2 separate regions of the Homo sapiens genome follow, and region 1 is linked to region 2. Evidence: fine-mapped expression QTL. A gene starts in region 2. The other region holds a variant in brackets. All regions are shown on one strand. Distances are between the middles of the regions.

The links. PIP is the estimated chance that this variant, and not a neighbour inherited with it, causes the effect. A credible set is the group of variants that fine-mapping cannot tell apart.
Region 1: its variant is the best candidate, but not a certain one, in a credible set for the expression of STK3 in whole blood (TOPMed, PIP 0.62).

Annotation. Positions count from the first base shown.
Region 1 is chr8:98,676,405-98,680,798 of GRCh38, reverse strand. All of the region lies in intron 6 of STK3 (serine/threonine kinase 3), which reads left to right. Among named protein-coding and RNA genes, the nearest start is that of STK3, 150 kb to the left of the region's middle. The variant G/T (reference allele first, on the strand shown) is at 1,840.
Region 2 is chr8:98,823,228-98,827,621 of GRCh38, reverse strand. STK3 (serine/threonine kinase 3) reads left to right here and starts at 1,934. Exons shown (of 11, transcript NM_006281.4): 1 at 1,934-2,107. The coding sequence starts at 2,082. RefSeq lists silencers at 1,448-1,787, 1,858-2,367.

The DNA.
Region 1 (4,394 bases), 150 kb after region 2:
TTATTTTATTTAGTTCTCTGGATCTTAAATCGTTTGTAGTTTTGGATAAAATGTTGCCTTCTTTAATTCCAAAGTAGTTTATACTTTTAGAAACTGTCTACAGAGAAAAAATTGTGCTTTACTTTCAGCCTTTATCGTTGCTACATTCTACTTTCTAGTATAGATCCCAACTTTGTCTTCTGTAGGGAAAGAGAACAGTTTATAGTTAGTTCTTTCTCCTTTTTTTCTTATTGCTTCTGACTTCTTAGCCAACTTACCTGGCAGCTGTAGTAAGTTATGCTGCTGCGGTGTGGTAGAGACTGGCATTGGGTGTGTTCTTATAGCCATCATAGCATCGGCTTTTGTTATTTTCCATGTTTCAGTTTGTTGGTAATGGACATATGGACATCATATGTTCCACAGAGTAGTGTATGAAGCCAATTTGAACTGTTTCCATTTGCCTCAAGTTCAATCATGATATTTATTTTTCCATGGCACTTACCCAGATTATCCATACCTCCTGCTTAGCTCTGTCACTGCCACCATGGACTGTATTTCTTCTGATTGCCTCCATTTTTTCACAGTATCTAATTGCCTTTCCCTCTTAGCTCTGTCTGCACAGCATTGATTGATGTTTATAAAAGATCCAAAGATCTTTCAGATAACAGATACTCAGGTGCATAGTAGTATGATATTCAGCTAGTTTTTTGTTTGCATAAGGAAAGTTATATATCCAGTTTCACAGACTGGTATTGAATATTCTAATGGAAAAGTTAGAAGAGTAACAATATGATTTTAGACAGTTTTGCTTACTTTTTAGTACCAACAATAACAGCAATATGATCTCAGGGTACCTTACCTTTGTTATACCAAATCAAGTCATAATTTTATTCATAAATTTTGAAGCTAAGATCCTAGATGCTCCCTTTTAGGCTTGAGAAAATATGTCTACATTATTGTTTACTATAGCTGTTCTTCAGCTCTCTTGCCCTATGCAAAGTCACTTAGAAAGTCATTGATTCTCAGAATATGAATAAATGTGTTGCTATCATTTCATGACATTCATTGAGCCAACTATTACTGTAACTGAGAAGCTGTGGGTTTAAGCTTGTGGATTCACTGGAATGCATTTATCCATTTATTCAGTAGATATATATTGAGTACCTACCATGTGCTTGGGACTATTCTAGGTACTAGGGATGCAGCAGCAGGAAAAACAAAGGTAAAAATTTCTCTTTATTGAGTTTATATTCTACTGAGGGAGGGAGATAATATCAAAAATAAATAAATACATCATGTGTCTTAGATAGTCATAAGTGCTAGAGTAGAAAAAATAAAACAGGGAAACAAGATAGGAAATTTCAAGGGTAGGGTGGAGTGGTTGATGTGTTGTGTTGGATTGCCAGTGAAGGCCTCATTGAGAAGATGATACTGGAATAAAAAGCTGAAGAAAATGAGGGTATCTGGATGTAGAATATCTAGGCAGAGCCAACTTACTGCAAGTTCTGTGGTGCTGAAGTGGGAGTGTGCATGGTGATTCCTGGTCCAGATCATAGAGCCTAGAAGGTCACAATCAGTGCTTAGACTTTTATTCTGAATGAGATGAGAAGTCACAGAATTTCTAAGTAGAGGAGTGACATTAGAGCCAGAAAGGTGGTAAGGGTGGAATTACATAGACTAGTTAGGAGACTTTTGCATAAACCGAGAGATGACGGTGACTTCTCTTGAAGAAGCAGTGAAAATAGTGAGTAGTTGAATTCTGTTATATTTTGTAAGTGGATTAACAGGATTTGCTGATGGATTAGGTATATGAGAGCACTGACAATGCTAAAGAGTTACTCTGCACAGCTTTGAAAGATG[G/T]TCCTTTCCTAGTCTATCAAAATATAAGCAGGAAGGCAGAAATGGAATGAAATATAGAGTTTATTCTTCCACAAAACTCAACTGTAAATGTGATGCATGTTTGCTATAGAAAGGAATAAAGGTATAAAGGAAGAAAACAAAGTATAAGGAAGAAAATAAAAATACTTGTACTACCTCAAGATTTACCATTAACATTTTGATATATGGGCTTCTGTGTACTTTGTGTATCTACTGTGCCCATTAGTACATACTGGTTTTTAACCAAAATTGGAATCATGAGATTACATTGTTTTATAACTTTCTTTTTTTCCTCTATCACTACATCTTGATCACTTTCCCATATCCTTAAGTTTTTGAGCCTTAAAATACTTTAAAAATTGCTAAAGTGAAATAATTTCATATACATTCTGTTTTTATGATAAAACTTTAAAATGTATGGTTTCTTTGTTTAAGGCGAAAGGAAGCAACTTATGCAAAGAAGCCATTACTAGTCATTAATCCTAAAGTTTAAAAAAGTCCATGGTTTTAATTTTTCATACTCATAAATTATTTATTAAATATCATAAATTATACTTTTTAAGAATTTAAGTATTCTGATGATAAGTTTTAATTTAAGGTGTAGCATATCAATTCTCTATGGATTTCATTTTTCTGTTTCTTTTCTACAAATTTTATTTCCACATAGAATGTTAAGAACTCTCTATTGGAGGAAATTATTATTTTTTTTAACCTTAAGAAACTGATATTTAATTGCATTTGTACATCCTATCTTTAACTTTGTATCAGTAAGCAGTCTTAACCAGCTGAGTGATTACATCAAGCCTAAATAATTAACCATATCAGAAAACATGCAATTAATAATGAACAGATTGTTAGATACTTCCTTCTATCAGTACAATCATTTTGAAAAGAAAACATTCTAAATGTTTTTTTCATTTAAAATGTATTGTACCTGCCAAAAAATACAAATGTGGTTTTCTTAACCTTGGACACTGATATATACATGTGCAGTAGGGAAGCATACTTCTGTTGCCAGCTTCTTAGTTACTGGGGTAGGCAGAATTGTTCTCCAACTACCTGACTCCTTCTGCAACCTCTTGTGCTGATGGTATTCATATAAAATGTAAAAAACATTTTCAAATGTTTTGCGAAGTTTTGAGAAGAAAAGTTCTGAAAAATTCCTAGGAGAGGGAAGAAAAAGGGTGAAGGCAGAATGACAAGTACCCATATTTGGAGATTTGGTGGAAGGAGATAAAAGAGACCAGAGAGTAAGAGAAGAATTAGGAGAGTTTCAGCCAAGGGAGAAAATAGTTTTAAGGAGGTTGTGATTGATGACCTTTTACAAATGTTTGTCCTCTTCTCTGTCTCCATCTCCATCTCCGTCTCCTTCTCCTTCCTTCTTCCTTCTTCCTTCCTCTTCCTCCTTTGTCTTTCTTCTTCTTTCTTCTTTTTTGCCTTTAGTTTGGGTAGTATGAATAATAGGTTATCAGATTGGAGGTCATGGTTAACTTTCAGGAGTGTAATTCAGTCAAGTAGCAGGCTGAAGTCAATTCCTGGGGGATCCAGAAATGAAGTTCGGTAGCCAAGAAGAGGAGTAAGTTGGGTGGCGGTGGGGGCGGGGGGTGGGGGTGCGGTGAGATTTGAAGGTTTGAGAGTCCAGGGAAGATTTTAATGGCATGAGGAGACTTAGTCTGATTTTAGAATGAGATGTAGGACCCAGAGGAGAGGATTAAAGATGTAAGGAGTAGGGCCAAGGGCGACAGATAATGAAACAAGGCCCCAGTCAGGTAGCAGGGAATGTGACTGAGGATTTAAGTCTAGTCATCAACCATGGGGAAAGTAGATTTAAGCATACTATGTCTATAACCTGCTCCTGCCCTGGACATCAAGTGTTACATTTGAAGAGCTCACTGCTTATTAATGCAGAAGCAGTATCAAGCATTTTATATGGTTGCCAGACTTAGGCAGGGCCAGTGGGTTGAAAGGCAGTAATACTTTGCTAGGCAATAATTGGTTTAGGGGTGCTGGTTAGCTGTAGTGGTGGTTCAGTTGCTTACAAAGTATTTAGAAGCCTCTGAGCAACTATATTCTGATCTGCCTTAAAAATAATTTAGAGTGAAGCTAATTACTGAAAGACCTTAACCAGCTTTTAAAAATATTGTGGAAATAAGCATAAATTCACCATTTTAACATTTTTAAGTGTACAATTCAGAGATGTTATATACACATTTACACTGTTGTACAGCCGTCACTACCATCCATACACAGAACTTATTTTTTTTTACTTTTTTATTGTGGCAAAATACACTTAACAAAATTTACCGTTTAACTTTTTTTTTTTTTTTAAAGATAGAGTTTCACTCTTGTTCCCCAGGCTGGAGTGCAATGGCATGATCTTAGCTCACTGCAACCTCTGCCTCTCAGGTTCAAGCGATTCTCCTGCCTCAGCCTCCCAGGTAGCTGGGATTACAGTCATGTGCCACCACTCCTGGCTAATTTTTGTATATGTAGTAGAGACTGGGTTTCACCATGTTGATTGGGCTGGATGGTCTCTA
Region 2 (4,394 bases):
AAAATGAATGGTCTTAAAATAACTAAATTTAGGAAAGAATATAATGGTTTGAAAATAGTGTAAGTTTATTACATAGTGAAACTTAAAATAATGCAAAAAGAGGACTAAACTAAACTTGTATTAGCTGCTAATAGTCAAGTTTAATTTGGGCAAATATTCACATTATTCAACATTCTCTTCAAATTGGTTTCCTTTATTTAACATTCTCTTCATATTTATTGTTCTAACCTCCAAGAAAATTCTATGTAACTCTACATCTTGACAATTTCTTTCTTTCTTTTTCTTTTTTGAGACAAGGTCTGCTCTGTCACCCAGGCTGGAGTGCAGTGGCGCGATCTCGGATCACTGCAACCTCTGCCTCCCGGGTTCAAGTGATTCTCTTGCCTCAGCCTCCCAAGCAGCTGGGAGTACAGGCGCATCACCAGGCCCGGCTAACTTTTGTATTTTTAGTAGAGACGAGGTTTCACCATGTTGGCCAGGCTGGTCTTGAACTCCTGAGCTCAAGTGATCCGCCCGCCTTGGCCTCCCAAAGTATTGGGATTACAGGCGTGAGCCACCGCGCCCGGCCCATCTTGACAATTTCTGACAAAAACAAGTAAACTCATGTAGCAGCTGTATATTGTTATGTGAAAGGTATATATGGAATTTAAGGTTAAAAGCAACCTCTGCCTCCCGGGTTCAAGTGATTCTCTTGCCTCAGCCTCCCAAGCAGCTGGGAGTACAGGCGCATCACCAGGCCCGGCTAACTTTTGTATTTTTAGTAGAGACGAGGTTTCACCATGTTGGCCAGGCTGGTCTTGAACTCCTGAGCTCAAGTGATCCGCCCGCCTTGGCCTCCCAAAGTATTGGGATTACAGGCGTGAGCCACCGCGCCCGGCCCATCTTGACAATTTCTGACAAAAACAAGTAAACTCATGTAGCAGCTGTATATTGTTATGTGAAAGGTATATATGGAATTTAAGGTTAAAAGTATACCCACAATATGGATGCATGCAGTGGTCAGATTACAATGGGATGAGGGCTGCTGGAATCAGGTTGGGGGAGAGGACCAAAGAGGGGAGGAAACAAACTTTTCTTGAGTATTCTTCCTGGCAGCATAATTTGTGACAGGCTTGCCAGGTTACCCAATGGGACAGCTGCAAGGGCCCAGTGCAACTGAATTTGGTGTACCGAGAGATCTCACTGTACGAATTATTTTCTCGGTAATTAGATGTAATTATTGTGAAATGTAGCGAGGAGCTTGTCCACAATAAAAATCAAACAAGAATTTCCAGAAGTATCCCTAGTACTGTGGCCTACACATGTCAAATGGCTGGGGGAAAACATAACCGATAATTATAAACAGAACTAGAGAGGGAAGCGTGGGCAGTGAGAAAGTAATACTTCAAACGGATTCACACGATGTTAGGATGTGTCGTTGGGAAAGCCAAAGAAATGAGTCAAATTGGATCAGGGCAAACCGTAGTGAGGGCAGGCTAGGGGCGGAGCTCTGGGCCAGCTCAGAGGGACTTGCCCTTCCCCAGCCTAGAGCGGCTCCGGCCTCGCCCCCTAGCTCTAGCGGAACCTTCTCCTTTTCCCGGTCACGGGGCTCTGGGGCCAGCCAGGCCTTCGTCCCCGGCCCCGCCCACCCGCCGCGGCACCGGCCCCGCCCGCCAACCCAGGCCGCGGCAGGCTCCGCCCCCCGCCGCGGTGCCCGGCTCCGTCCACCTTCTCTGGGCCGCCGCCGCAGGCTGGCGGCCGGCGCGGCCGGGGGCGGGGCGGGGCGGCCGGGGGCGGGGCGGGGCGGCCGGGGGCGGGGCGGGGCGGCCGGGGGCGGGGCGGGGCGGCCGGGGGCGGGGCGGGGCGGCCGGGGGCGGGGCGGGGCGGCCGGGGGCGGGGCGGGGCGGCCGGGGGCGGGGCGGGGCGGGAGGAGCCGCGCTCCTAAGCGGGAGGGAGATCCGCCGCGGAGTTACGGGAAAGTTGGTCCGAGTTCCCAGAGTTTCCCTCTGTGGTGCCCTAGGCTCGGCCGGCCGGTGCCCCGGCTCCTTTCCTCCTTTCGGCCTTCGCCGTCCACCAGGTCCCTCTCTCTGTCCCCGGCCGCCATGGAGCAGCCGCCGGCGCCTAAGAGGTAACGAATCGGGGAGCGGGAAGAAGGAGGGAAGCGGCGCCGGCGGCCGCGGGGCGGGGGTGGCTAGGCCAGGCCCTGCTGCGAGCCTCTCCCCGCCCGCCGGGCCCCGAGCCGGGCGCGCTGAGGTCGGGAGGCGGGTCCGAGTGTCCCGCCGCGTCTGTCCACGGGCGAGGGGACCTGAGGGGAGCGGGAGCCGGAGCCTCCCCTGCGGCCGGCAGGCCTGGCGCGTGGAAAGTCGGGTGGGCAGCGCCGGGCTCCCTGCGGCCTGACCTCCCGGGGCGGGAGGAATTAAATATTAATAGCTACACAGTCTGTAAAACATTGTGGATGTGCTGCTCTGACAGGTGTTCTTCCCCCTTCCCCCTCAAGTTCAAAAGTATTTATGGATGCAAGACAGTGGGAAGTTTAAATTAGAACCCCCTCCCCCAATATAGTTTTGCGTGTAAAAATAGTGCTGCTTTGGTATGGTATTTACTGTTATTAATAGTTTATATTTAATCTTTGACACCTGTGTTGGAAATGTATGCATACAAGAGTGGGATGTGTTTGAGCTAATATTTGCAATGATCTTAGGAAGCCAAATCTAGGTTGTCCATTGACAGAAGTTCATAATATGTATTCCTCTCTCCCCAAGAATGAATTAACGAATTGTTTGATGTTGCTAAAATATTTAACCTCAGTCTTTCATTTTTAACTTATAAAATAAGGATAGTAATCTCTCAGATAGTGCTGTTGTGAAGATTAAAGAGTTCGTATGCTTTGACAGCTAGAGATCTTTAGATGAAAGGTGTGTTCAAGAACATGGGATAATTGAAAAGTTAGGAACTTTGGGAGCTATTGTGAATTGTGTGACTAGACATGTGAGCCTTGAAGCCTGGAAGCCATCTGTTCAGGTGAAAAAAAGGGGGGGTCGTGAAGGAGTTTCCAAAAGGGACCTGCTGTCAGAGCACTTGAGCAAGTCAATTGATAGATTCTTTTCTAGCATTTTGTAAGTTACCTGCATTCTACTCATTGGGCACCGTTTTAATACAATATAAGAGAATTGGGCACTTTTTTCTTTTCTGGAAGAACTGGAAGGAGCACCTCTGAGAAAACACAGTAGTCCAGTTTGAACAACTCTGAATTGAAGTGCAGCTCTCTATTGATTAGCTGTACTGTAAGTTATCAGAGTTTCATTATAGGTGTAAGAGAATCCTTGCCCTTGTGGAGACATTAGAGAACCTGGAGGAGTCAGGGGCAGGTGTAGGCAGCAATTCTGTGGTGATTTATACTTTTCAAAGTGGTGGTTGCACTTTTAACAGACTTATTTTTAGCTTATTCAGAGTCTTATTTTGAAGTAGTGAACAAAAATGCCGCAAAAGCATTTTTGAAGGCGAAAGATATGTGACAGCAATCCCTGATATTTGAATGTCTCAACATTTTTTATAGAATTTTCATATTCATAATATTTAATCCTCACAGCAACCCTATGGAGTAGATTGGATTATAGGCATTAATCCTAATTTATAGATGAGGATGTTGAGAGAGTTTGCCACATGGAAGGCTATGACAGGAATTACTGGCAGTTTTGCCCCTATTGATTATTATCTCCTAATAATGAAATATAGCTACTCGTTTTGAGGTCATCCTGTTTGCCAGGAAATTTAAGTATACATTATTTAAATCCTAAGAAATAGTAATCCTGGCTCTGCTACTTATTATGCTAGTTCTAAGTTTAATTTCTTCATCTGTGAAATGTATTGTGGGGATTAAATGAGGTGATATGTAAAGCACTTGGGACAGAGCGAGACCCTGTCTCAAAAAAACAAAAACAAAACAAAAACAACAAAAGATAATGGGGACTAATTTAATAAATATTTATGTATCACGACTGAGCTTAAGAAATAAAATTTGACAAATATATTTGAAGCCCCTATGTGTTCAACAGTGTTAGTTGTTAACTTATGTTTTCCTTATTATATGAGGCTCAAAGACGTTAAATAACTTGGTCAAGTGGAGAAAGTGCCAGAATTCTGCATCTGATTGGCTACAAAGGCTGTGCACCCTCTTGTTGTATACAGTGATGGCTCTTTTTGAAACTCTCTTTCTTATCATTCCATGATGTAGTGGTCCTCTTTTTCTGTAATCTCCTGGTCTCTGTTGCTTATTCTGCTCTTAATCCTTATAAAAGTGCCATTTTGCTTTTCTGCCTTGAATAACACTTCCTTAGTGCTGACTTTTACATGGCCTTATCGATGTCGTTGATGTTCAAGTATGACTAGAAGCTGCTGCTCAGTTGGCATTTTTT